Regions from separate parts of the Homo sapiens genome. Here all the other regions are linked to region 4. The links come from fine-mapping of genetic effects on gene expression. A gene starts in region 4. Each other region holds a variant in brackets. All regions are shown on one strand. Distances are between the middles of the regions. Region 1 overlaps SKAP1 (src kinase associated phosphoprotein 1). Region 2 overlaps SNX11 (sorting nexin 11). Region 3 overlaps SKAP1 (src kinase associated phosphoprotein 1). Region 4 holds the start of SKAP1 (src kinase associated phosphoprotein 1). Region 5 overlaps SKAP1 (src kinase associated phosphoprotein 1).

What was found.
Region 1: its variant is fine-mapped to the expression of SKAP1 in whole blood (TOPMed, PIP above 0.99).
Region 2: its variant is fine-mapped to the expression of SKAP1 in whole blood (INTERVAL, PIP 0.95).
Region 3: its variant is fine-mapped to the expression of SKAP1 in whole blood (INTERVAL, PIP above 0.99).
Region 5: its variant is fine-mapped to the expression of SKAP1 in whole blood (INTERVAL, PIP above 0.99).

Annotation. Positions count from the first base shown.
Region 1 is chr17:48,190,678-48,195,809 of GRCh38, reverse strand. All of the region lies in intron 4 of SKAP1 (src kinase associated phosphoprotein 1), which reads left to right. Among named protein-coding and RNA genes, the nearest start is that of MIR1203, 37 kb to the right of the region's middle. RefSeq lists an enhancer at 3,024-3,641. The variant C/T (reference allele first, on the strand shown) is at 2,026.
Region 2 is chr17:48,121,684-48,126,801 of GRCh38, reverse strand. SNX11 (sorting nexin 11) reads right to left here. Exons shown (of 7, transcript NM_013323.3): 7 at 3,201-5,118. Among named protein-coding and RNA genes, the nearest start is that of SNX11, 16 kb to the right of the region's middle. The variant T/G (reference allele first, on the strand shown) is at 1,965.
Region 3 is chr17:48,371,636-48,376,767 of GRCh38, reverse strand. All of the region lies in intron 2 of SKAP1 (src kinase associated phosphoprotein 1), which reads left to right. Among named protein-coding and RNA genes, the nearest start is that of SKAP1, 56 kb to the left of the region's middle. The variant AC/C (reference allele first, on the strand shown) is at 2,560.
Region 4 is chr17:48,428,226-48,433,225 of GRCh38, reverse strand. It overlaps SKAP1 (src kinase associated phosphoprotein 1), which reads left to right and starts at 3,012. Exons shown (of 13, transcript NM_003726.4): 1 at 3,012-3,151. The coding sequence starts at 3,106. RefSeq lists a silencer at 2,839-3,098.
Region 5 is chr17:48,150,407-48,155,538 of GRCh38, reverse strand. The region is part of intron 11 of SKAP1 (src kinase associated phosphoprotein 1); the gene reads left to right. LOC124904018 (a long non-coding RNA gene) reads right to left here. Exons shown (of 2, transcript XR_007065827.1): 2 at 2,663-4,969. Among named protein-coding and RNA genes, the nearest start is that of MIR1203, 3.5 kb to the left of the region's middle. The variant GTC/C (reference allele first, on the strand shown) is at 2,513.

The DNA of each region.
Region 1 (5,132 bases), 240 kb after region 4:
AAGGGCAACATGAGTCTATTGAGGTCTCATGAAAGTTGTCTTCTGTGTTGGTTTGCTAACTACAAATGTGTCATTTCTACCATTTTCTGGGGTCCTTTAGTCTAGCTCCTGTTGCTCATGTTCTGTTTCCTAGCTTCTTACATCACAGCTTGTTGAAGAACTTGATTAAGTACGTTGTGTTCATTCCCTTCCTTTCATCTGTTGTCCAATTTATTTCTCCATGAACAGTTCCATTCAGTTAGTTTAAAGCCATCTGTTTGAGTGCTTTCTATATCTTTGAAATTTTAGATGCTAAATCTATTACTAATGTTTTAGAATTTTTCACCTTTCATATGTTAAGCTAAATTCCTTTATAAGTGAAGCACAATGCAAGAAAAATGTGTGGTATAAGTGTAAACTCAGGTGGATATCAAATGGAACCACGGAAGTTAAAGAATTATATATGCCTGTTCAAGGGACTAATCAAGGAATAGTCATTGAAACCAACTTCCTTGTTAGCATCGGAAGATGACACTTCCTGCCAGACACTACAAACTATCATTTATTGACTGGTTCCTGAAAATTGAGAAGAAGGCAAAAAAGTAACCCAGAAAAGTAAGAAGCTAAGGAAAAGCAGTAATGAACATATTAAAGAAGGCCACAGAAATCAAATGCACAAAAGAGAGGTTCATGAACAGATTTGAAATCCACAATCACCAGACAAGAGAAAACTACCCCCTCCCCAACCTATCTGCAATACCCTCCTCACCTTGGTACATTTGAGGCATTTTAAAGCGTGTGTTTGTGTTTATGTCTGCAGATGCACACACACCAGCCATCTGTGACTGCATTGGAATTGCAGGTGGAATTTGACCATTCCCAGCCTTCAGATGTTAAATTTTCTCCAATCTCATACACCCAATCCCCAGGTTTTTTACATGAGTACTTTAATGAAGGATCCTGCTAAACTTCACCCTGTCTGAAATTCACCCCTGTTAGCTATTAGTCTCTAGGCTCAAGTTGGTTAGGTCCCTCTTTTAAACAGTTGAAAAGAACTTGAATTAAAAGGAAGAGGGAGGATGGGAGAAGTCCATAACTTAACAGGGGGACGATTTGAACAAAAGATGTTTTTTAAAAAACTATTTATTTTCCTTTCAGGATGATTTAGCAAGAGACCAAGCCAGCTGCCTATAATGAAAGTTAGTGGGCACCTGGTTTGTTCTGCAGGGGCTGCAGCCTTTTTGCGTGGAAATTGTGTGGCCTCCTGTGCTATTAGCCTTGTGCTCTGGTGTTGCCAACTGATTTCTCCAATTCTCTTTTCTCAGTGGGCTAGAACGCAGCTGGTTAAATAGGCCGTGACTCACATAAGCTCTCGTGTCTTTTTTATTGACTGCTTTATGGAAATGTATCACACTCCAAAGGGTCCCCATTGTTGTTGCTGTGCATAGCTGACTAAAGAGTCATGTTTAGCATTGAGAGATGGAATCCTATTCTGTCGTTTTTTATTGCTTTTTTTGATGTGGGTGGGATACAAGGGTTTAAAGGAAACTAGATGAAGAGAAAGATATCTGAGAATTTCTTTTATCTTCATCTGCCATGAAAGTTGGGTGGCCATCACTTCTGGGTAACATACTTCTCTGTTGATCTTATCTTTGTGGCCCCATATCCTTCAGCTAAGTGAATCTTTTCTTTATACGGGCTGTTCTGAGAGGTTTAGTTAAGTGTAGTGGTAGGGAGAGATTATGACACTAATGTAATTCTGTTTTGTGCTGATATAATGTAATACACCTTTAGACTTAGCCAAGAGGGCCATTTATTCTCAATAAATCAAAATCATTTTTATTTTTTCATGACGGTGGTGATATCTTTTCTCAGGTAATGAATAAAAAGCTTCTTTTTTTAATTGTATACTTAAATATAAATTGTTTGCCTTAAAATAGCAACTTATACAATTGTTTGCAACTTCTTCCTATTTTTATAACCGTCCTTTAAAGCATATTTTACATACTTTCTATTATGCATTAAGTAGTTCTCTGCAGATCTGTT[C/T]GTTTACCAGTAGGTGTGGATCCAGGCATACAAGATTCCTGCCTCATCACCCCATGGCATGGCTAACACTGTTCATCCTCAGGATCACTAGTTCTTGATCAGTAGGACCCTGCGCTGACACTGAAAGAGGAGGTACCTTGCATGCCACTGTGGATTCCCACCTTGGTTATTTGGATTTGTCAGATAGATCATGGAGCTAATGAGATTGAGCTCAGAGCCAACTACATTGAGAACAACTCTGTTATTGAACTCACCACACAGTACCTTGTACACAGAAGACAGTTAGTAGACTAGAGACTGATCTGACCTCATTTCCTAATTTTTTTTCCGTAGACATTCTAAACTGAGCCTATAATCCCATTTTTTCCCACTGCCCATAAGGGGAACCAGGCAAGAGAATTCCTCAATACAGATTCTGTCTAATGAATAAGAAAGCAACATAGACCGGGTGCGGTGGCTCATGCCTGTAATCCCAGCACTTTGGGAGGCCGAGGCGGCTGGATCCCCTGGGGTCAGGAGTTCAAGACCAGCCTGACCAACATGGAGAAACCCCGTCTCTACTAAAAATACAAAAAACTATTCAGGCATGGTGGTGCATGCCTGTAATCCCAGCTACTTGGGAAGCTGGAGCAGGAGAATCGCTTGAACCCGGGAGGTGGAGGTTGCAGTGAGCTGAGATCACACCATTACACTCCAGCCTGGGCGACAAGAGTGAGACTCTGTCTCAAAAAAAAGAAAGAAAGAAAGCAACATAACACATCTTACTGACTATACACAAAAACACACCATATAAAAAGCTGTTTCCAGCTCTATTCCTTTTCAGAATCTTGTTAGTGAATGACCAAGAGAAAAAATTCAGCAGCTCCTTTGGTACCCAATTTTAGCAAACTGAGTTTGACTCTTGGGGAGAGAAGGTGGTGATGGTGCTATCCCTTGTCTCCTAGAATTAGTGACTTAGAGTTACATCTCTGCTGTATTATGTCTTTGTTTCCTTAGTGGTGGCATTCTTGGGTTTCAGTTGGTGGGGAGAGAAAAACCTCATGCTGATAATGTACTGAAAGTAAATGAAATTAAATAAGCGAAGCAGTGCTCATCACTACTTCCTCCCCCCTGGGTAATTCAATTCAAGCTCTCTCTCTGATGGCAACTCACAGGGGCTGTCTCTGTCACCCCGCTGGGGCCTGGAGTCTTAACATCTAAATAAAAGTTTCACTCAGGCATTTTTTATGCTCCTGCCAGCAGGATCAGTGAGCTGGTGTGGGCACATTAATGTAATATTCATACTCACAGACTCTCCCTGCACACGAGGCAATGTCTTCCCATTTTCATAATTATAGATGTTCCATAAAATGGCATTTAAATTTGCATTAAAAAAAGGAGGTTTGAATTCTAATAGAACGTTTAACATGTCTTTTATGATTCAGACTCTTGGCATCTTTGACAAGGAGCTGTGTCTCTAAGTTTAACAAGACCTTTAAAAAGAAAAGAAAAAAAAAACCTGTGGAAAGAAGAGATGGAAACTCCCAGCTTATGGGATCGTGTTTTCCTCATCTCCCTATGTCTTTCATTTAATTTTTAGGCCTCCAGGAGCAATTTTTTTTTTTAAGAGGCAGAGTCTCGCTCTGTCCCCAGGCTGTTGTGAAGTGGTTCAATCACAGCTCACTGCAGCCTTGAACTCCTGGACTCAAGAGATCCTCCTACCTCAGCCTCCAAGTAGCTGGGACTACAGGTTTGTGCCACCACACCTGGCCTCCCCAGGAGCAATTTTTTGACAGCACTTCAGAGAGCCTTCTCTTCTGTAACTGGTCCTCACCCCACTCAATGCCTCACCCTCAGTAGAATCTGCTACTGTTTCCTTGGAGGGTGTTTTCAGAGGGGTAGGAGAAATGAAAGAACCCTAGAAAAATGAACTTTCCTTTGCTGCTGTTCATCTCATGCGTGCACCCTGAGATTGATTAAAAGGATTTATGGCAACCACATAGTTTGCTAACTGTGAAACACACAAATAAAAGTAGTCCATGAACAAGGAGGTTAACAATAAGGACCAATTGGATAAAAAATCAGGCACATAGACACACTTAAAAACAGAAAAAGAGGCTCTTCTGATCTACCTTTTTATAACTAAGCTTGAAACAGCTTTAAAGCAAAATGTAATTTTGATTGCATTTTAAATTGTCGTAGATGTTATTTTAAAACAAAAAGTAGGAAAAGCACTGAGCAAAGTGCCAGCTCATAGCCACCATTGAATAAATGTTATTGTAGGAAATGTTCAAAAAACAATTGTTTGAAAAAAAGTTATTTCAACCATAACTCTCAAGATACTCTATAGGTGGCCCAGTTGATTCATATGTAGTTATGCCTTACTTTGTTTTGTATTTGGTTTGCTTCATAAATTATTTAAGACAATCCAAAAGAGATTTGAGTTCTGGGACTAAAAAGAATAAATGTTAAAATACCGCTAGCCCAATTACCTTCATTTTGCCTAATTAAGAAATGTGGAGTGTGTCCTTAAAAGAGGCTTTTTTTTTCATTCTTCTTTCATTTTATTTTTTGAGAAGTAAATTCCTTCTTTGTCTCCATCCTTTGTCCCTCCCTTCTGTGAAGTAAGTATAAACCCCAGTGGAGGAAGATGGATTAGGATCTTGACTTCTCAATAAATTTGTACCTAACAAGGCTAATTGAAAGCCAAGAATGTTAGCAGCATACAATTAAAGGCTGATGTAAGTTTCAGGGTATTATTTGTGAAGCCTTTTACAGTTCTTAGATTCTTTCGCATACTTTTTTTTGTTTGTTTTGTTTTGAGACGAAGTCTCATCCTGTCGCCCATGCTGGAGTGAAATGGCACGATCTCGGCTCACTGCAACCTCCGCCTCCCGCATTCAAGAGATTCTTGTGCCTCATCCTCCCGAGTAGCTGGGATTACAGGTGTGTGCCACCATGCCCGGCTAATTTTTTGTATCTTTAGTAGAGATGAGGTTTCACCATGTTGGCCAGGCTGGTCTCAAACTCCTGACCTCGTGATTTGCCTGCCTCAGCCCCACAAAGTGCTGGGATTACAGGCATGAGCCACTGGGCCCAGCCTCTTTCTCAGACTTTTAAGAAATCAG
Region 2 (5,118 bases), 310 kb after region 4:
CAAGAAACACCACGCAGAAGGCAGCTGCAGATGAAAGGGTTCGGCTCTGGTTCCCTCCTCAGTGCACTGGTGGGACTGGGGCCGGGCAACATGCTTTTCGTATGTTGACTACAGTCCCCAGGCAGAAGTGGGGAGATTCAGGACAGATTGCCATCTCTCGGCTGTGATTTTCCTGGTCCTCCGTGTTCATTTACTGGAAAGTTTTCTCATACAAAATGACTCCCAGGAGCTCTGTCCAGAACCAAAAAATAAATAAAACAAAAACGCAACCAAAAACCACTGCCTTCTCAGGAGGCCAAAATAGGAAGTGAGGTCCAGTGTCATTGTTGTCTCTGCCAGCACAGGCCAGACAGGAGGGCCATCACTGGTCCTGGTGCCAGCCAGAGCCCTGTCGACGCTGCCTCCCATGGGCCCTGAATCTGAGGCACCTGGAAGGGTTATTAGCAGGATTGGAACTCATCCCTCTGCTGGGACCAGATCATAATTACAGTAATTTTCTAACAGAGCTCGGCAGTAGGACTGTTTAATCAGCATCTGACTCCCTTGTGCTCCCAGCCCTCATTACTCAAGGAGAGGAGTGGGATGCCTCTTAAAGAGACAGTGCCCGCCTTTCAGCGTTTTGAACAGATGTGCCCTAATTGGTAGAATATATCTAAGTCTCACAGCTTATAGCAGGCAGGCTGCATTGCCTCCAACAAACTGCCTCAGGCATTCACTGTTCTGGGCCTTCTGCGGGAAGGATCCGGGTCAGGCTGCTGGTGGGGTGGGCTAGGCTTCCCACACCAACACAGCCACCAGGGAAAGGGACACACAGAGCTAGAGCACTTACAGGATTCGAACAGGCTGGCCCTTTCTGAACTGACGGTATCAAAGAAAATGTGCTTGGCTGAAGGACAGGAAGGAGAGACTTGACAGCCATGCAGCCATGCATGAAAAGAAATTTTGGCTGGTGGCTTCCCATAATCCAGAGATTCCAGAAGCATCTTGTGTTCCTGCCCTTCCAGGGGAAAAAAACCTTAGAGACTTCCCAGTAGTCTCCTAATTCTCACACCCTAGCTTTGTCACCTCTGTTTATTATCTGTGACCCTTTGGCAACCATGAAAGTACCCCTTGGCTTTTTTTCCTTCTCCTTTGCTTGTGAAAATAGACCAGATCTCCCCTGAACAAAAGAAAAGTAAAATTATTCACTCTGCTTATTCAGTCAGGAGGACTCTGTCTCCTAGGAAGTGTAGTTCTTGTTAACATTTTGAGCATAAGTTGTCTGTTTATTATATCTTGAGATTTGAGGTCTCCAGCTTTCCAACTCCAAATCCAGTCATGGCTAAAATAGAAGTGTTTTTCCCCCCTAAGAAGTCGTATCTCTAATAAGGCCAGACTCAGTGGCTAACACCTGTAATCTCAGCACTTTGGGAGGCCAAGGAGGGCAGATCACCCGAGGTCAGGAGTTTGAGACCAGCCTGGCCAACATGGTGAAATCCCATCTCTAATAAAAATACAAAAATTAGCCAGGCGTGGTGGTGGACACCTGTAGTCCCAGATACTCAGGAGGCTGAGGCAGGAGAATCACTTGAACCCGGGAGGTGAAGTTTGCAGAGAGCCGAGATCATGCTACTGCACTCTACCCTGGGCAACAGAGCAAAACTCCATCTCAAAAAAAAAAAAAAAAAAAAGTCATTATCACCTCCCAAGCAAAGCTAACAGAGAGGATAGGAGGTACCTTGGACTCGGTAGTATGGATGTAAGGCCTTAGCATGAGAAAACTAAGAACTGTGAAAGAGCTCTGATTTCTGAGAACAATTCTGAAAAGCCCTGCAGGGTTGTTGTTTTTTTCCTTGAATGTAGTGGTAGACTTTTTCTTTTTTGGAGTGGTAGGGGACTTGTCTCACAGAGCTTGGAAAGTATCTCTCATGTGAACATATTCCACCATCATCTAAAAACATGCTTTTTAAAAAACCACACTTGGC[T/G]GGGCACAGTGGCTCACGCCTGTAATCCGAGCACTTTGGGAGGCTGAGGCAGGCGGATCACTTGAGGTCAGGAGTTCAAGACCAGCCTGGCCAACATGGTGAAACCCCGTCTCTACTAAAAATACAAAAATTGCCAAACGTGGTGGCTCACGCCTATAATCCCAGCACTTTGGGAGACTGAGGCAGGTGGAACATGAGGTCAAGAGATCAAGACCATCCTGGCTAACATGGTGAAACCCCGTCTCTACTAAAAATACAAAAATTAGCTGGACGTGGTGGCACGTGCCTGTAGTCCTAGCTACTCGGGAGGCTGAGGCAGGAGAATCACTTGAACCCGGGAGGTGTAGGTTGCAGTGAGCCAAGATGGCGCCACTGCACTCCAGCCTGGCAACAGAGCAAGAGTCCATGTCAAAAAATAATCATAATAAATAAAATAAAAATAAAAATACAAAAATTAGCTGGGTGTGGTAGCAGGCCCCTGTAATCCCAGCTACTCTAGAGGCTGAGGCAGGAGAACTGCTTGACCCCGGGAGGTGGAGGTTGCAGTGAGCCGAGATTGTACCACTGCACTCCAGCCTGGGCAGCAAAGGCTGCCCATCTCAAAACAAACAAACAAACAAATAAAAAAACACACACAAAAACATTGAGCTCAGTTTCCTCAACGAAAAAAGGAGCATATACCTAACCTACCTTCCTTGCTAGGCACTGAGAAGGGCCAATAAAATTATGTTTATAAAACTTAGTATTTTAATGTAAGAAAACACCCCCCTCACACACAAACACATTTCCTCCCACCAAACAACCTCCACAAGCTTGGAATCAGTCATCCTGGGTAATGGATGACTAGATGTGGGCCATGGAGGTATCTGACAGAAGAAAGGTGACTACATCAGGACAGAACTTGACTCAAAACTAAATTCTAAACAAAATATTTTTATCCTACAAAACAGCTCAATGAGCCACTCCCCACAGCTAATCCTCCATCTTTCATAGAGGTCATCTGGCCACAGTGGCTAGACCTGGGCACACGCAGGGACAGAGCAAAACAGAAGAGGGGCCTATGGCACTATCTGGATGGAGAGGAAAACTCATGTGCGCTATTTTTCGGATGACCCTAGGCTTGTATTATTAGAAAAGTGCTTTCCTTCCTAGGACTTCTCCTTCCAAGGCCTATACTCAGTTAAGAGAGAGACTGAAAAGAGATGGTGCCTGGCCTTAGATTAACTGAGGTGCTGTTGTATGCATGCTGCTAATGGATCATTAAAAAAGCTGGGAGTCAGAAAAATCACATCCATGTCTTTGAATGGCTCCTGCTGTCCCAGCAGCCTAGCCGGCTGGCAGAACTAGCTGCTGAGCACCAACTCCAGGAAGAAAAGGAGCAAACAGAAGAAGGCCAACCCAGCTTGCTGTTTTTTTGGCTGAGTAGGGAATTGACACAGACCACCTCCAGCTCCTGTCTGGAAGTTTCGAGATCAGAGAGCTTCAGGCACAGCTGGGTTCACAGCTGCACCATTTGGAGCATTGGGCTCATTAATATTCATGAGCCATCCCCACCAATCGGCAGAGCGGATGCCATTAGCTTAGCATCTGTCGGGTTTTTGTGAGGGTTGCACATGGAGTTTTTTTCCCCTTTTAAATGAACTTCTTCTGACATTTTGGATTTGCCTCTGTAGGTTTTCTATCCTCGCCTTGCTCTGCTGCATCATATAAAGGAGAGACCCAGGGGAGGCGGGCAGGAAAGAGGGATGAATACCAGCCAGGGCTTTGCATCTGCCTGTTGACAAACTTTATTTCTCTTTCAGCACCTGGCACCTCAGACAGACTGCGAGGATGGAAGCAGCATCAGGTAAATTATACCTAACAAGGTTCACGCCCAGAACTGTGAGAAGAGTTGGATCCCAGCTCTTTGGAAGACAATCCTTCCTCCAGTGGTGAACTTGAGCTGCACACACAATGCAGGAGGGCTACAGAGCACAGTTCTGAAGCATTATTTCCACACTGATAAATTCATGATTTATGAAAGGAAATACTGCCAGCGCTCACTCCCTCCTTCTCTGCTACAGCTTGTTAGACACAAATTGCAACAACAATCTTAAATACTTGCATTTTATTTCAGGCCAAAGCCCCTCCACTCTGAACTAAATGCCATGACAGTCCCACAGCATAGGCTGGTAGTAAAAGAGCCCACAGACAGGGTAGGATAGCCAGAGGAGGGAGGAGTGGGCGACAGGGAGGGGAAGGATCACACACACAAACCTAAGAGTAGAGCAATGCAGAATGCCTGTGGCACTCGGCTCCTACCAGCTCTGGCTCTCAGTGGAGATGAAGAATGGCAGCAGGAGGACAGAATGCCTCATTGTCTGAAGGAGAGCGTGTTGTTTCTCATCTCCATCCCCAGAGCCCTCTCTTTCAGGCAGGCAGAAACAAAGCCCTTGCACCCCACTGCACTGCGCAACACAGCAGAGACGCTGGTGGCGGAAGCCCTGGAGGCAGGGAGCTGCTACCAAAGGAGAAGAAAAGGATTCCAAAAAGAAAGGAGCCCACTCTAACCCTGCGGAAAAGATGGCCACATGTCTGCTTTATAACCAGAAGAGACAGTAACAGCCCGGGACAGCCTTTCCCAAAATAAAGGCCCCTGGGCTGTTACTGTTCCCTCTGGCTGTGGCCAGCCACTTCTCTCTCATGCATGACCATGAGCTGTTGTGCAGGTCTCAGGCTCCACTCAGCCAGGCTAAGGTCTCGGGACATAAATCCCCAGCAGCAGGAGTCACAGCACCAGTTCCATTCAGTGGTATCAGTGAAAGAAAAAGCAAGGAGGTGGGAAAGTAAATATTCATCCCCCTGTCCATGCAAGGAGGTAGGCAAGAGGCCAGCCTCCCACAAACAAAGTGCTCTAGGGCTACAGCAAAAACTGAAGCCAGCCAAGATGGGGATACAACATAACCACTCCCAGTGGGATGATGTTCAATATGGCAGCTTAGAATTTGCCACATACGGGTCCCCAAAACTGGTCACCTGAGGAGATACTCCTGGTCCTACATACAAATGACCTGCAGAAACTCAGATCCCAGGAGAGTAATATAGGGTTCTGTTCAAAAGCAACAGCCCCTGTGTCTTATGTTTAACTTACAAACATCTGCACAGTATTTGTTCC
Region 3 (5,132 bases), 57 kb after region 4:
CAAACTGGTCCACAGTTGGGTTTTCTGTGCTCTTAGTCCCTCACAGAGTGTCTGGCAAATAGTGGAAATTTATTCATCTCTACTACTGAGAGAACAAATGCAGTATTCGTAACTTGAGATACAGAGACTGTGTTGGCATGTTAATGCTGAGATATCCACCTTGCCTAGATGAACTCTAATAACTAATCCAGCTTAAAAATTTTTTACATAACATTTGCCTTCAGGTGAATAATATGTCCATGTTCATAACAAGGAAAATATCAAAGGCATGATAGCCGAGTTTTTCCAAGGAGGTTTTAAATGTTTTTGTAGAAATTGTCTCATTTTTAAATGAATATCACATTTTTGAACTTGCCCCTGATTCTGTACAAGATAAACTGTGGTGGCCCCACAGTGTGGACTTTTAAACTCCTATGGTGCGATCAGATAACCTCTCCATGCTTCATTGTTCTCATCCGTAAAGTGAAGGCTAGAGTAAATGATTTTAAGTGTCCTTCCAGCTGTAAAATTCAGTGAGTATATGGGCCACAGTCACACATTCACTCAGCTACCAGTTATTCACTAATCAGATAATGGCGTCTCAGTGGTCGAAGAGTAGCTGTTAACCTGAAGCAAGCAAAAAATAAAACAAAATTAGGTTTTTAAGCGTCAACAGTGACAAAAATGACAGAGCAAGGGCCAAAGAGACAACAGTTTAGAATACAGTAATCAGCTGGAGTTATTTGTACATAAGCAGTACCTTGTTTTCTCCAATACACAAGTTTGGAACCGAAAGGCGTCTCTGACTTTCCTCTTGATGCTCTCCTCCTAGCCAGTCTCTAAGTCTGTTATCTAATGTCTTGTCTTTTCTCTTGCTCTCAAGTAGCTTCCTAAACTATCTCCCCACTTTTCTCCCTCCCATCCATGCTACACATCTCTGCTGGATTTGATGTGGACATCATTCTTTATCCTTAAAGACAAACAAACAAACAAAGAAACAGACCTTTCAATGACTCCTTTTTATTTACAGAAAAAAACCCTCCAACTCTGACCTGTTGTTTAGTGTTTTTATTTTGCCATAATGTATTTGGCTAGCATTTTTCCTTTATTAGTTCATCGAATTATAGTTTGTTGCCTATTACATGGAGGAAGTATGGGGATTGTGTAGACATACTAGTGAGATTTGCTGGTGAAAAAACAGTCCTCATGCTAGAAAGTAGGGGAAGGAATGTTAGAATGTGGGTTTCCAGTGTTGCAATCAGAAAGCTTAATCACTCACTGATCAAAAAGAGTTCTTAGGTTTCTTAATGTTTATACTCATGGTGGGTGTTTCATTGACCATAGCAATGATTCCATGTAGCAAAAGTGTTATAGGAGACTCTAGTGTTAAATAGTACTTTAATTTCTTTTCAAAATTTAATTTCTTTTTTGCTGTCCAGGAATGGACTTAAAAATTGTGGTGGGGGAGCAGGTGATGAGTTATACTGTCAATCTCAGATAATGTTGTTTATTATTTAATATAAGTTTGATTGTGATCATTGTATTTAGTAGGTAGGTGAACATTGTATTATCTACCTAGATGGGCTTGTAAATATAGACTCAAGACCACAGAAATATTACATCCCCCAAAAGAACCCGGGACCTTCTTGTGATATGTTCTTCTATTACATAATTGAGTTATATGCCTATTGTCTGTTGTTACAGTAGTATTTATCATATTAGATTGTCATCTCATTATATACAAAGAGCTAATATTTTGGACTAGATTGTAAGCTCCTTGTAGGTAGGCATTAGGTCTTGTACTTTTGGTGAGATTAAGGAATTGGGACTAGAAGGATCACCAGCTCTTCCACCAAAGACCTTCCTTTTGCTGCCCAGTTGTTTCTAAGGCTGGTACCTGGACCCCTGGGTCCCAGGCCTTGGATGCCTCCACTGGGGACTTCCACCAGATGGTGCTGTTTTCCCATTTCTGTTGTTGGGTGTCACTGGCCATGTTACTCTTTGCCACTAGTCCATACCTTCTGCAAGGTAGTAGATGGGACACTTTCAGAAGATAATTTGGAAGCAATGTGAATCTTTCCAAGTGAGAAAAAGAATTATAGGAAATATTTAGTGTACAGACTCTTAGCATTGCTCAGCAAAGCCATTTCCTTGGGCATAAATAAACTTCTACCATGTGGCTGACTGCTCAAGATCAGTTGCAAGGGGTTTTCCTAGCCTTATCAACTTGCATGGAATCCATGCCCAACTAGGTGTCCGTCTGAATCCTAAGATTCCATTTTCAATGCAGGATAACTCTTCAGTGTTAGCCTTTGCAGTCTGTTTGGAGACAGCCATTATCAGAGAACAGAGATGGTCAAGAGAGAGATAGAAGTCTTTGGACACTGAGTATTGCAGACAGCCTATGCATTCAGAAGGCATTGCTGTTTTAGTACAAAAAGGAAGTTCAGGCTGAATGCAATGGCTCACATCTGTAATCTCAGCACTTTGGGAGGCCAAGCAGGCAGATTGCTTGAGTCCAGGAGTTCAAGACCAGTCTGGGCAACATGGTGAAACCCTGTCTGTACAAAAAAAAAAAAA[AC/C]AAAAATTAGCCAGGCATGGTGGAGCGTGCCTGTAGTCCCAGATACTCAAGAAGCTAAGGTGGAACGATGGCTTGAGCCTGGGAGGCAGAAGTTGCAGTGAGCTGAGATTGTGTCACTACGCTCCAGCATGGGCAGCAGAGCAAGACCCTGTCTCAAAAACAACAAAAAAGAGAAGTTCAAATTTGGATGTCCTTAAGTCATTAAGAAGAGATTTGATTTTGTTCAGCAGGAGTTTACCAAGGCAGAGAGTATATGATGTGTTTTAAATTTCCATAAGTCACAGGTAAAATAACACTTTTAATACTTCAGTTGCAAAAAAAAATTCATCTAGATGTTCTAGAGTTATAACATCACAGATGTTGGCCTTTCTGGGTAGCTAGTTTTATAATGCCATTACAACTCTATTCACCTAATTCAGTGGGTCATATCATTTTTGGTGGGTGTGGGGCAAGGGTGAGTTATTGACACTAATGAGGTCTATAGACTCTTCTCCAAGAGAAAAGAAAACAAGTGTTACATTTCACCCACAATTTTAGAGAGTTTAGGAAATCCCCTGAAGCCTAAACTATGGACTTCAGGTTAAAGACCTCTGTCTAACCACTCCCTAATATTCATATTAGGGTTGATTCATGCCCATAGGCTATCTAACAAAACAACTGTATCTTCTCTTAAGTACCAGATTTATTTTTTTTTATATATTACAGCCAATAGGAAAGCAGTTAATATGGAATTTAAGAGCTTGGGCTCTGGAACCAAGTAGACCTGTGATATGGTTTGGCTCTGTCCCCCCACCCAAATCTCATCTTGAATTATAAACCCCACATGTCAAGGGAGGGACCTGGTGGGAGGTGATTAGATCGTGGGAGCAGATTTGCCCCTTGCTGCTCTCATGATAGTGAGTGGGTTCTCACAAGATCTGGTTGTTTGATAAGTGTCTAGTGCTTCCCACTTCTCTCATGTTCTCTCTCTCTCCTGCCACCCTGTGAAGAAGGTGCTTGCTTCCCTTTCACCTTCCACCATGGTTTTAAGTTTCCTGAGGCCTCCGCAGCCATGTGGAAGTGTGAGTCAGTTAAACCTCTTTTATTTATAAATTACCCAGTCTCAGGTAGTATCTTTATAGCAGTGTGAAAATGGACTAATACAACCTGGATACAAATCTTGGTTCTGCCACTTAGTAGCTATGTGATCTTGGCCAAGTTGTTTGACCTTCCTGAGTTTGAGTTTCCTCATGTGTAAAATGAGGATAATAGTAGTCCTGGGCTGGGCATAGTGGCTCATGCCTGTAATCCCAGTGCTTTGGGGAGGCCAAAGCAGGAGGATCACTTGAGGCCAGAAGTTCGAGACCAGTCTGGGCAACATAGTGAGAATTTGTATCTACTAAAATGAAAAATAAAGGAAATTAGCCAGGTGTGGTGGTGCACACCTATAGTCCCAGCTACTTCGGAGGCTGAGGCAGGAAGATTGCTTGAGCCCAGGAGTTCAAGTTTACAATAAGCTATGATTGCACCACTGCATTCCAGCCTATGTGACAGAATGCAACCTTGTCTTAAAAAAATACTGACCTCCTAGGGTTTTTATGAAGATTAAATAAAATAATACATGTGCCGGGCATGGTGGCTCACGCCTGTAATCCCAGCACTTTGGGAGGCCAAGGCAGGCAAATCACCTGAGGTCAGGAGTTCGAGACCAGCCTAACCAACATGGAGAAACCCCTGTCTACTAAAAATACAAAATTAGCCGGGCATGGTGGCACATGACTGTAATCCCAGCTACTCGGGAGGCTGAGGCAGGAGAATCACTTGAACCTGGGAGGCGGAGGTTGCGGTGAGCCAAGACTGCACCATTACACTCCAGCCTGGGCAACAAGAGCAAAACTCCGTCTCAAAAATGAATAAATAAATAAAATAACACATGTAAAACATATACCTAGCACAGGGCCAGACGTGGTGGCTCATGCCTGTAATCCCAGCACTTTGGGAGGCTGAGGTGGGTAAATCACTTGAGGCAAGGAGCTCAAGACCAACCTTGCCAACATGGGAAAACCCCATCTCTACTAAAAGATAAAAAATTAACTGGGTATGGTGGCACACGTTTGTAATCCTAGCTACTCAGGAGGCTGAGGTACGAGAATCGCGTGAACCCAGGAGGCAGAGGTTGCAGTGAATGGAGATTGTGCACTGCACTCCAGCCTGGGTGACAGAGTGAGACTCTGTCTCAAAAAAATATATATGATGTATATGCATATGTATATGTGTATATCTAGCACAATGCCTAACATGTAAGTGCTAATAAATGTTAATCATTTTTTTATAATTGGGAAATAGAATTATTTTTCCTTTCTTTTTTTCTTTTTCTTTTCTTTTTTTTTTTGAGACAGGGTCTTGCTGTGTTACCCAGGCTGGAGTGCAGTGGTATGATCATGGCTCACTGCTGCCTCAACCTCACAGGCTCAAGGGATCCTCCCACTTCAGCCTCCCAAGTAGCTGGGACTACAGGCATGCATGCACCACCATGCCTGGCTTTTTTTTTTTTTTTTTTTTTTTTTTTTTTTTGTGGAGACAAGGTTTCACC
Region 4 (5,000 bases):
AGATTTGGCTTCCTGCGAAATTGGATTTCAAAAAAGGACAAGGCTTCAAAGGAATTTGTCCATTTAACAGAATGTCATTAGGAGTGGGGCTGACTGCTGAAACAGGGTCCTCAGATGATTAAGGAAGGGCTGCGTTCATGTGTGGAGGCAGATTTCTGTCTGCAATGAGGAACCTTGATGCAACATGACAATACCGTATTGGAATCTGCCAGTCACTCACTACATACTACCCGACTGTGCACCTCCCTCTACCCCTGTCTCTCTAAAACCCAGAGATTCTTGTAAGGAAGGATGCATATAGAATACGTACACTGTGAGTTTTTGGTGTAAGTAAGCTATGACAGGCAGTGAAGCCTGCAAAGAAGTGCAATTACCTGGGTTTACTGCTCTTTATCAAACAATTCATTAGCTGGTAGCTTATATTAGTATGTGACACCATATCCTTGAAGAAGAGGGGGAGGTTATCAAATTTTCTTCTGTTGCCAAGAAGGAAAGCAAGGCAAAGTTTAGGTTGACATATGGGGAGACTTTGCTGCCCTTGCTGTATTTTTTGTGTAACAGTTTAGATTTACCAAAAAAAAATTGAGATGATAGCACAGACAGTTCCCATGTATCTTTCCTTGCTTTTTAGTATGCCTCATAAGTACTTCAAAATGATTCTAGAGCAGCTACAATTTTATAGGTGAAGTGGTGAAGTTGGTAAAAATGCCATGGGGGTACCTGGTACTTGATCCCAAGCCTGAAAGGGGTAGTCTGCCCATTGCTATACTTTCTTTCTTTCTTTCTTTCTTTTTTTTGAGATGGAGTCTTGCCCTGTCACCCAGGCTAGAGTGCAATGGCCTGATCTCGGCTCACTGCAACCTCCGCCCCCCGGGTTCATGTGATTCTCCTGCCTCAGCCACCCGAGTAGCTGGGATTACAGGCGTGCACCACCATGCCCAGCTAATTTTTGTATTATTAGTAGAGACGGGGTTTCACTATATTGGTCAGGCTGACCTCAAACTCCTGACCTCGTGATCCGCCTGCCTTGGCCTCCCAAAGTGCTGGGATTATAGGCGTGAGCCACTGTGCCCAGCCACCCATTACTATACTTTCTCAGGGCAGGAAGGAGGATGAGCAGGAGCCAGATACCCCAGAGAGGCTCATGCCAGCCTCTGTCCCCTCACCCCAATTTACTGCAGCTTGTAGGTGGGTCATGTGACACTGAAACCAATGCACCACTGCTTTTCAGATGGCAGGATGCACTGTACTCCTTAAAGGATCACACCCTCATCTTTGAGGCTGTATCTCTGGATGGGAAACAGTACAAGGAGGCAGGCACTTTTATCACACTCATCCTTCTCGATGGTTTCTTCTTACTGCTCTTGCCCCGTCTGCTAGATTGAGTCCATCATTATTCCCCTTATGGCTGTTGTAAAAACCATTTTACCCACTTCCCCCTGTGTCTTTTCCCACCACTCCTAATCTTTTCTACATATTCTGTAGGTTGAGTCTGAGAATAGAAATGCCATTTTTTACAAAGAAGGAAAAAGGCAGAGGTGGAGATGTGTGAGGCCACATACCACCCCGGAGCTCTGGTTAGGTCATTCCCAATCTCAAAAATTGTCAATGGCTCCCCAGTGCCCTCTCAATTAAGTTCAACATTCCTATTCTGACTTTCAAGTCCCTTCACAGTAGAGCTGCAGTTTATCTTGACAACCATAGTCTTTCTACAACATCCAGTAAAAGAGGGCTACTAACTATTCCTCAAGCTGGTGAGGGCTCTTCCATCTTTCTTTACTCTGGTCCTTCCACCTGGAAAGTCCTCTGCCCCTTCAAAGTCTGGTGTGTTTTTCAGAGCCCATCTCAAACACCACATGCACCTTTAAACACTCACATGCACACTGGCACTTCTTTTTATTTTCTTTCTTTTTTAAGAGACAGGGTCTTGCTCTGTTGCCCAGGCTGGGGTACACTGGGGTGATCATAGTTGGCTGTAACCTCAGATTCCTGGGCTCAAGTGATCCTCCTGCTTCAGCCTCCCAAAGTGCTGTGATTACAGGTGTGAGCCACAATGCCTGGCCTCTTCCCTCCTTTTCTGGTATTCAGCTCCCTTCTTTTATCAACCATAGCACTTTATACTTTTTTCATGGCAGTTGACCTATTGTACTTAAAAAACCTCTTTATTTTGAGAATTATAGATTCACAGAGAGTTTCAGAAATAATAGAGGAACTCTGTCTACCTTTACCCAGTTTCCCCCAAGGGTAACATCTGGCACTATTACAGTACCATGTCACAACCAGGACACTGACACCAACTGTCCCTTGAATGAGACCGTGTGATTTTGTCCTTCACTTTCCTCCCTTCCGCAGCTCCTGGAGGGAAAGGGCTCTGTTCTCCTCTCCCTCAGCTTTCTCCCTGTGTTACCCCTTCCTTTCCTCAGGGCCTTTCCATCCTGAGGGAGAACAGCACAGTTTGGTTTCCTGTGTCCCTTGCTGCCACGCTGCCGCGATTCTCCCAAATGTTGGTGTCCTTATATTGCTTATTGGGAATTAATCATTTCCTTTCAACATTGTGGCTTCCCAAAGAGCGAAGTTTTGCCCTCTTTTCTGGGGATGGAGATGTGAACTGGACCGGCAATTGAGGGGTGCTATGCTTGACGGGGATCTCTTCCTTGGATTCTGCCTCCCTGCACCCTACTTCAGGCACCCCGTGGTCTTTCAAATCTGCCACCGTGAGGTCAACTGTTCGGTGCTTAGGATGGAGTGTCCAAAGCCGTGGGTCCTTTGAGCCTTGTGAAGTCTTTTGTTTTGGTGGGTGCTGGAGGGGCGCACCTTTGGCCTCGCACGGTGCGGTGCTTCCGGCACCCCCAATCCTTCTACCGTGGGGCTCCGGCGTGAGCGCCACGTGCACCCACGCCCCGCGCCCCGTTCCGGTCCCCGCCTGCCGCCCGCGCCACTTCCTGACGCGCCCGGGGACCCACGGCCCCGCCCCGCGGCCGGGCTGGGCGGGCGGCGACCGCGGCTGAGGTACAGGTGCCTCGCGGTGCAGCCGGGTCGCCTTCCAGCCCGTCCGCCTCCCGACCAGGGCCCGCGCCCCGTCCCGCCTCTCTCCCGCCCAGCCAAATGCAGGCCGCCGCCCTCCCTGAGGAGATCCGTTGGCTCCTGGAAGGTAACGCCCTGGCGCAGGCCCCCTCCAGTGCTGAGCCGAAGGCCGAAAGGGGACACCAGGCCTCCCACGGCCAGGCTTTCTTTACGGCTTCGTCACTCACCTCCTTCTAGAACCTTAAGGCTTCTAGAGCCCTCAACTCCCTAGAGCCAGCTTTCCATCCTCTCACCTCAGGGCCCCTTTCACTCCCTGGAGTCCCACATCTTCTTTTGCCTTGAGGCACCTCCACGCCTCCACTTCACCTCCCCGGCTTCTAAAGTCCTCAGGCCAGGTTCTTGGTCCCCCATGCCACCTTGCCTGGTCTCCGACCTGTCCCTTTCTCCAAAGGACTGCCCTACATCTGTAGGGTTTCCCGTCCCCCTCCTTCCCCAGCCACGACTTCCTCACCTCTCACAGAAGACCCCAAACCTTCCTGCTTAGAGGTCCCCGAGGCTCTCCAGGGGGCTGCGAGGGGCTCATGGGATCCCCATGGGCCAAGGCCAGGTGGTTGACGTGAGTTTTTGTCAGTGCGAAAACCCCAGCCCTCCCTTTATCACCCTGCAGACGTCTAGGGGTCTCACCCACCCCAAGGCAGGCTCATTCTCAGTATGGGATTTCCTCCTTTTCTAGAAGTGCCCCCATTGTGGTGTGTTCACCTTCCAACTCCCATTGTGGTGTGTTCACCTTCCAACTACAGTGTCTAAGCGGTGGTTTAAAGAGTTCCGGCCATCCCCGTCAACACTCAACACACACTGCCAACACTCCAAAGAGATGTCACAAAGAGACGTTGCTAACGGGCAGTTTCATCTGCTGGGTTTCGTGGTGGAAGTCACTTTTACTTGCTTTCCTGTAACTAACCTTCCAGGGAGGACAGAGGCCTGGAATCTGCAGTCGCATAAGGCTCCCAGGAGGAAACTATTCAGAATTAAGCCTTTTGGCATCTAAGTTGACATAGTTGACACATATTTAACAGACGGCCTGCTTTGGGCAGGTCATATTTTTGGCAAGCAGTATTTTTTTTCAGTTTCTCTCAATTTAATTGGTTTTATATCTCCATTACCTTGTTATCTCGGTATAAATGCCTCCTAATCAAATATTTGGCAAGTCCTTTTGGTCTCTGTCTGTAGCACTATTTCCATTCTGGATTGCTTCTATGTAAAAGCTGTCAGCTAGATATTTCTTTTGAGGTGAGGTTTCCAAAATCCGTTTTACTTACGATCAGAATAAATCTAAATTTTGGGGGTAGAAAACTATTTGCAGGGTAAAAGAGAATTATCTGGGTGTCTAAGAAGAAACAATCCAGCCTTTCCCTCTGTTGTTGGTTTAATATTAGGCTTGTGAAGGAAGGCTGTAATTGTCTTTGGTTTCTAGGAAAGAAGGGACTGTGGCAAAAAGTTTAACTCTGCCCTTGCATTGAAATATATAAACTGATTCTTTTTATTGGTATCTGTCATTTGATGAGAGGAAACCTATTTTATAAGCTTATTAAACTATACTTCAGTTTTGTGTCTAGGCTTGGTAGAAAATTCCTTTTTATTTTCAGAGGCTTGCAATGAAATCCATTCCTTCAGCATTTTTGATGTGCAGTTCTTCATTGTTCAAAACTGACACTTTGGTAAACAACTCATTTCTGCACCTGCCACCTTCCTTTAGCTTAGATTATTTTCTTGTTAGCTGACTGTTTTTAATTGAAGTCTTCAGATCTCCTTCTAAAGCAGAACCTTTGTTTGCTGACAAGTAGAGCGGGGTATGAATGGAGATTAATTGCATGTCGCATACTTCTGTATCAAGCTTGCTGTATCTTAACAATCTCTGTTGGTGCTCAGGTCTTTAAAATATATGGAGGAGTCTGAAACCAAATTATAAGGAGCTT
Region 5 (5,132 bases), 280 kb after region 4:
AGAAGCCTCTATTTGGATAAGACAAGTCACAAGTCCTAGCTTTCAGAAAAGTGACCCTGTCTTCTTGGCTCCAGTGTCTCTCACTAGGGAACATTCTTTCCAAATAATAATAATGCTTGTTGGCAGGGCGTGGTGGCTCACCCAGCACTTTGGGAGGCCGAGGCAGGTGGATTGCCTGAGGTCAGGAGTTCGAGACCAGCCTGGCCAACATGGCAAAACCCCATCTCTACTAAAAATACAAAAATTAGCCAGGCATGGTGGCGCGTGCCTGTAGTCCCAGCTACTAGGGAAGCTGAGGCAGGAGACTCGCTTGAACCCGGGAGGCAGTGGTTGCAGTGAGCCAAGATCATGCCATTGCACTCCAGTCTGGATGACAGAGCGAGACTCCATCTCAAGAAAAAATAAAAATCATCATCATCATCATCATCATCATGCTTGTTCCACTATTCAAGATAACTTTTTTTTTTTTTTGAGACAGAGTCTTGCTCTGTCACCCAGACTGCGAGACTGGAGTACAGTGGCACAATCTTGGCTCACTGCAACCTCTGCCTCCTGAGTTCGAGCGGTTCTCCTGCCTCAACCTCCCTAGTAGCTGGGATTACAGGCTCAAGCCACCACACCTGGCTAATTTTTTGTATTTTTAGTAGAGATGGGGTTTCACCATGTTGGCCAGGCTGGTCTTGAACTCCTGGCCTCGAGTGATCTGCCTGCCTTGGCCTCCCAAAGTGCTGGGATTACAGGTGTGAGCCACCACGCCCAGCCAAGATAAGACTTAAACGCCCATTTTTTTTAAAAGCATCCTGTTCCATAAGTTATTTATGGTGGTAACATGAGCTGTTCAGAAGATAAGGACAAATTAAAGAGGGAAAGAGAAGCTCTTTTTCAATTGACTAGGAAGGAGAAGAGGCCACTGGGTGAGATCTTCCATTTAAGGTAAACTGAGCCAGTGTACATCTCTTGGGCTTGGGTTGTGTGCCTCATAAATTGGTCTGAGGCTCTTCCAAGGAATTGTCCAGTGCCTTATTTCCATGGAAAGCAGCCTTGGAGCAACAAGTTGGGTACGCATAAGATTTATACTTACACGGTGGCTTAGCTGGGGTGGGAAGGTATTCTCATGGCCCAGACACACCAGGGTCTGGGTCATCTTCCTTGCTGATGGAATTGATGTGGAAACAGGGAGCCATACAGACAAAGTCAAGTTTAGCGTGGAACACGTGATGCTGTCAGATGGTCATGGGTCTTATGTGGAGAAGAATGGACTTTGTCACCCTGGACTGCAGCTACTTAAACTCAGATGAGATCCTGGCTCCACAGCCAGTCTAGTCATCTGAATGCGGCAGGCCTGCGCCAGCACACCTGGACTATGTTAACACAACACTATGTCAATTATAATGGGAGTTTTAACCCGGTTTTCTCCACCTACTTCCTCAATGGGCTACTTAAAAGAATGGAGACCTTTCCCCTCCCTTGACCCCGTTCTTTCCAAAAGAGATTTGTATGTTGTAAAAATTATCTTAATGCAGCAATACTTCCTCTTTTAAGTGTGCTTAGTTGAATGTGACAACAACCCTCATAAAAACAGATAAGTTAATTCCTTCAATTGCCTTAAATGAAGGATTTTTTTTTCTTTTTTTTTTTTTTTTTAATTTCAGGGCTCTGAGGGAAAGGAGGTGTTTGGTGACATCTAGTGTCCATTTAGGACTTCCTCAGGCACCATACCCTCTGGTTGGCTGAGTGGGGGATGGGTGGGGGGTTATCTGGGAGGTAATTTAGGGGTAGTAAGTGGGGAGAATATAGGCCTGGGGCACAGGCTGCCCAAACAGTGTGATGAAACTGATCAATGCCTGTCAAAGAGCTATTATGCACCTCTGACCTAATCAAAGGGGTGGGTGAGGGGATCCTATGGCAAAGTATCTTTTCTTATTTATGATGGTATGCAAGAGAAGCAGAAGCTGTCCCCACCACCCCATTTCATGTTAACAAGCAGGTCAACACTGTGCTGTGATGACGAAGATGATGATGATGGTGTTTTCTCTCATTAATAACCCCTATGGGAGGCAACGGAGTTAGGAGGATGGGAATGGGATTTGGGGTCAGCTGGAAGGCAACGGTCATATACCGGTCAAATTCAGTAGAGGCCATTCCTTTCCCCCAGACAGGAACCAATCGTCTAGAACAAACCCTGGCAGCCTCATTCCTTCCAGGTAATTTTTATAAATGAGGGGACACCCATTCCAAGAGAGGACAAAAGGGAGAGGGTGTTTATGTGTGTGTGCATATGCATGCATGTAAACCTGCTAACAAGAGGCCCAGTTGCTCATCAACCCATCCTGCAAACCCTGACCATTTATTCTAAAACCCATTTTTTAAAAAGAGAATAAAATTGGCATTTTATTTTATTCTATCTATCTATAAATAGTCTAATCTATTTATTCCTAAACAGTTGTCCTGGACAAGACCTTTCACTTTTCTCTCTCTCTGTGTATGTATGTGTGTGTGTGTGTGTGTGTGT[GTC/C]CATGTGCACACAGTTTTCAGTTGGGGAAAATTCCAGACCAGATAATTAACTACGAAGCCCAGACAGAAACGTTTACCTAGAACCATATAAGCCACGGCCGGGTTAGGTTAATGCTCAGAATTGCCCGATGCTTTACAAACTCCAGTGTAAAAAATTCCAGCCATTTATTTTGCAGTGAATTTATAACAAATGCTGTTAACGTCTTCGTCTTTTGACAGAGGTAATAATAAATTCACTGTTAAAGATGGTAGTTTAATTCCTTATACCTCCAATACTGCACAGAATAAACCATATTCATCACTGAGTAATTTTTTACCACATAAATCTTTAAAACTAACCGGTGAAGGCTGCGGAAACTGAAATATTGTGAATTTATTAGATATGCCCATGTAGTATTGGATTCAGAGGTTTCCATTTGAATATATTATGGGGAAAATTTGTGTCTTTAACTGTGACATTCCCTCCATTTCCCACCGCCAGTATTATAACAAGCAGCTCCTCCAGAGTCAACTGCACATTTATTAGACAGAGATTTAGTAATAAACTCCCCACTAATCTGCCAAAGAGGCTGGATGACATTTTGGTGAGATGCCCTATTTAAAAGGAGTCACAAAAGCTTTGTTTCAGTATAATTATTTTCTCAAAAGAAACTCAGCCTCCCCAAACCTCTTCTGCCACCATTTCTTGGTATTGCGTGATTCAGCTCTCCAACCAAACTAGCAAAATATTGAAACAAAGTATAACCTCATTGCTAACATACAGGGCAGTAACTTCTATGGAGATTATAGGATTAGTTATGCAAGACTGAAGGTAATTGATTAGAACACAGAAAAGCTTAAATTTGCAGACATTCCCAGATGTATGGTATTTAAGGCTAATAAAAAGATCATATTGATTCTCAAATTAGAAATAATAGAAATGGTTTCAGAAAACTAGTTATTTAAAAACTTTCATCTTGACATATGAAACGTTAAAGATACAGTTAAATCCTCAGATTTGAACAAAAATCCTTTTACTCTACATATTAATTTTGAGTGAAAATCTGTACCTGATAGATGAGAATATTCTGAACCTTTCTCATGATTTGCTAGTGAAGTGACAATGAAACTAACCAAGTATATCAAATTGTAACACCCTCTCCAGTTTCATTAAGGAAACATTAATATTGCTAAAATGAAAAATATTTTTTTCTTTTAAATGCAGAAATGTTCATCATATTTAGCAAAGAGAGTCTGCAGTTTCTCTGTTCCTGATAATATTCTGTATTTGGGGAGAGTTCCAAATACTAAGAACTTACATGGAGCATTGTGAACTTTACCGTTTTTTAATAAAATTGGTTTCTAACTATTAAACAAAGGAGAAGAATCTCCTGGCAGTGCAAGGCTGTAGCCCATCCGAATAATTGTTAAAAGACAGAACCCAGCTAGAAAGATAGGCATAATACCAGCAATTAATATTCAGCATTTCACATTATAGTCAAGAGGATGTGTTTTTCTTTGTGATGTGGCTCATAAGCTAAGAGTGTTGGGAGCCAGACTCTGAACTGTGTCTTCTTTTTGTGGATGAGGATTAAGGAGGAAAAAAACAGCGACGACAATCCTGCTCCATCTGTAAATGAACAAACATCTTGATTTTATAGCTATTTGCTTTGTAAAACTAAGGAATGAAACAAAAATTACTGGATGCCTAAGTAACACTTTAATTCTGAATTCATTTACGCTATAGCTATGTAGTTGTCACAAACCATAATGCAGTATTTAATTAAAATAACAGAAGTGCATCTAGATATGTCCTGGGGTAGCTGTCACCAAATTATACTCTATGCCATCGGTATTTTATTTATGAAATGGCAGATTCTAAGGTGCAACTAGGCTGATACAAAAGCATGAACATTTTAAACTTGCATTTTTAGAAAGGCTCTTTTTTTTTTTTTTTTTCCTGCTGCGTCTTTAAATGTTTTCCTCCTTCTGTCTTTGGAAGGGGAGGGAGGTTAGTGTGATTGTTTAAAGATCTCTCTAAATCTTGCTTTTCAACTGTTGACCTCCTAAGTCTTCTGGCTGTGAAATCCCCGTCTGTTGTCATGGAAAGGCTTGCGAGGTTCACAGGAGCCACAGCAAGTGTGGGACATCTTAGGCAGAACTTGGACGTGGATTCCAGGAGGGTAGGGAAAAGAGCAAACCGTTTCAGACTCTCTGTGCCTGTTCCCACATAATCTTCCTTGCACCTTTTTCCACCTATAAATACCCGTTGTCGTGTACACGCTTGCTCGCTCTACTTTGTGGATGTTCACATGCAGACATACTGCTCTTTTTCATAAGCGCATAGCATCTATCTTATACGCACCCACCATCTATCTCCTTGTTCACATTGGCTGTCCCATCCACCTCCTTGTCTGCAGAATTATGTTCAGCAAGGTCCCGATTTATAGGAAATAAATAATGAAAATGGAACGGACTGGGAAAGATAATCGAAACATTCAAATTGTTATTTTTCACTGTACTTTACACAAACAGAGCATCTATAAACACCTAGAAAGGGTGTTGGCTGATCCCTACAAAGCAATGCCTTTTGAAACATTGTAACCAAGGGGGTCTCTACACCTTTCCTGTTCCTCCTC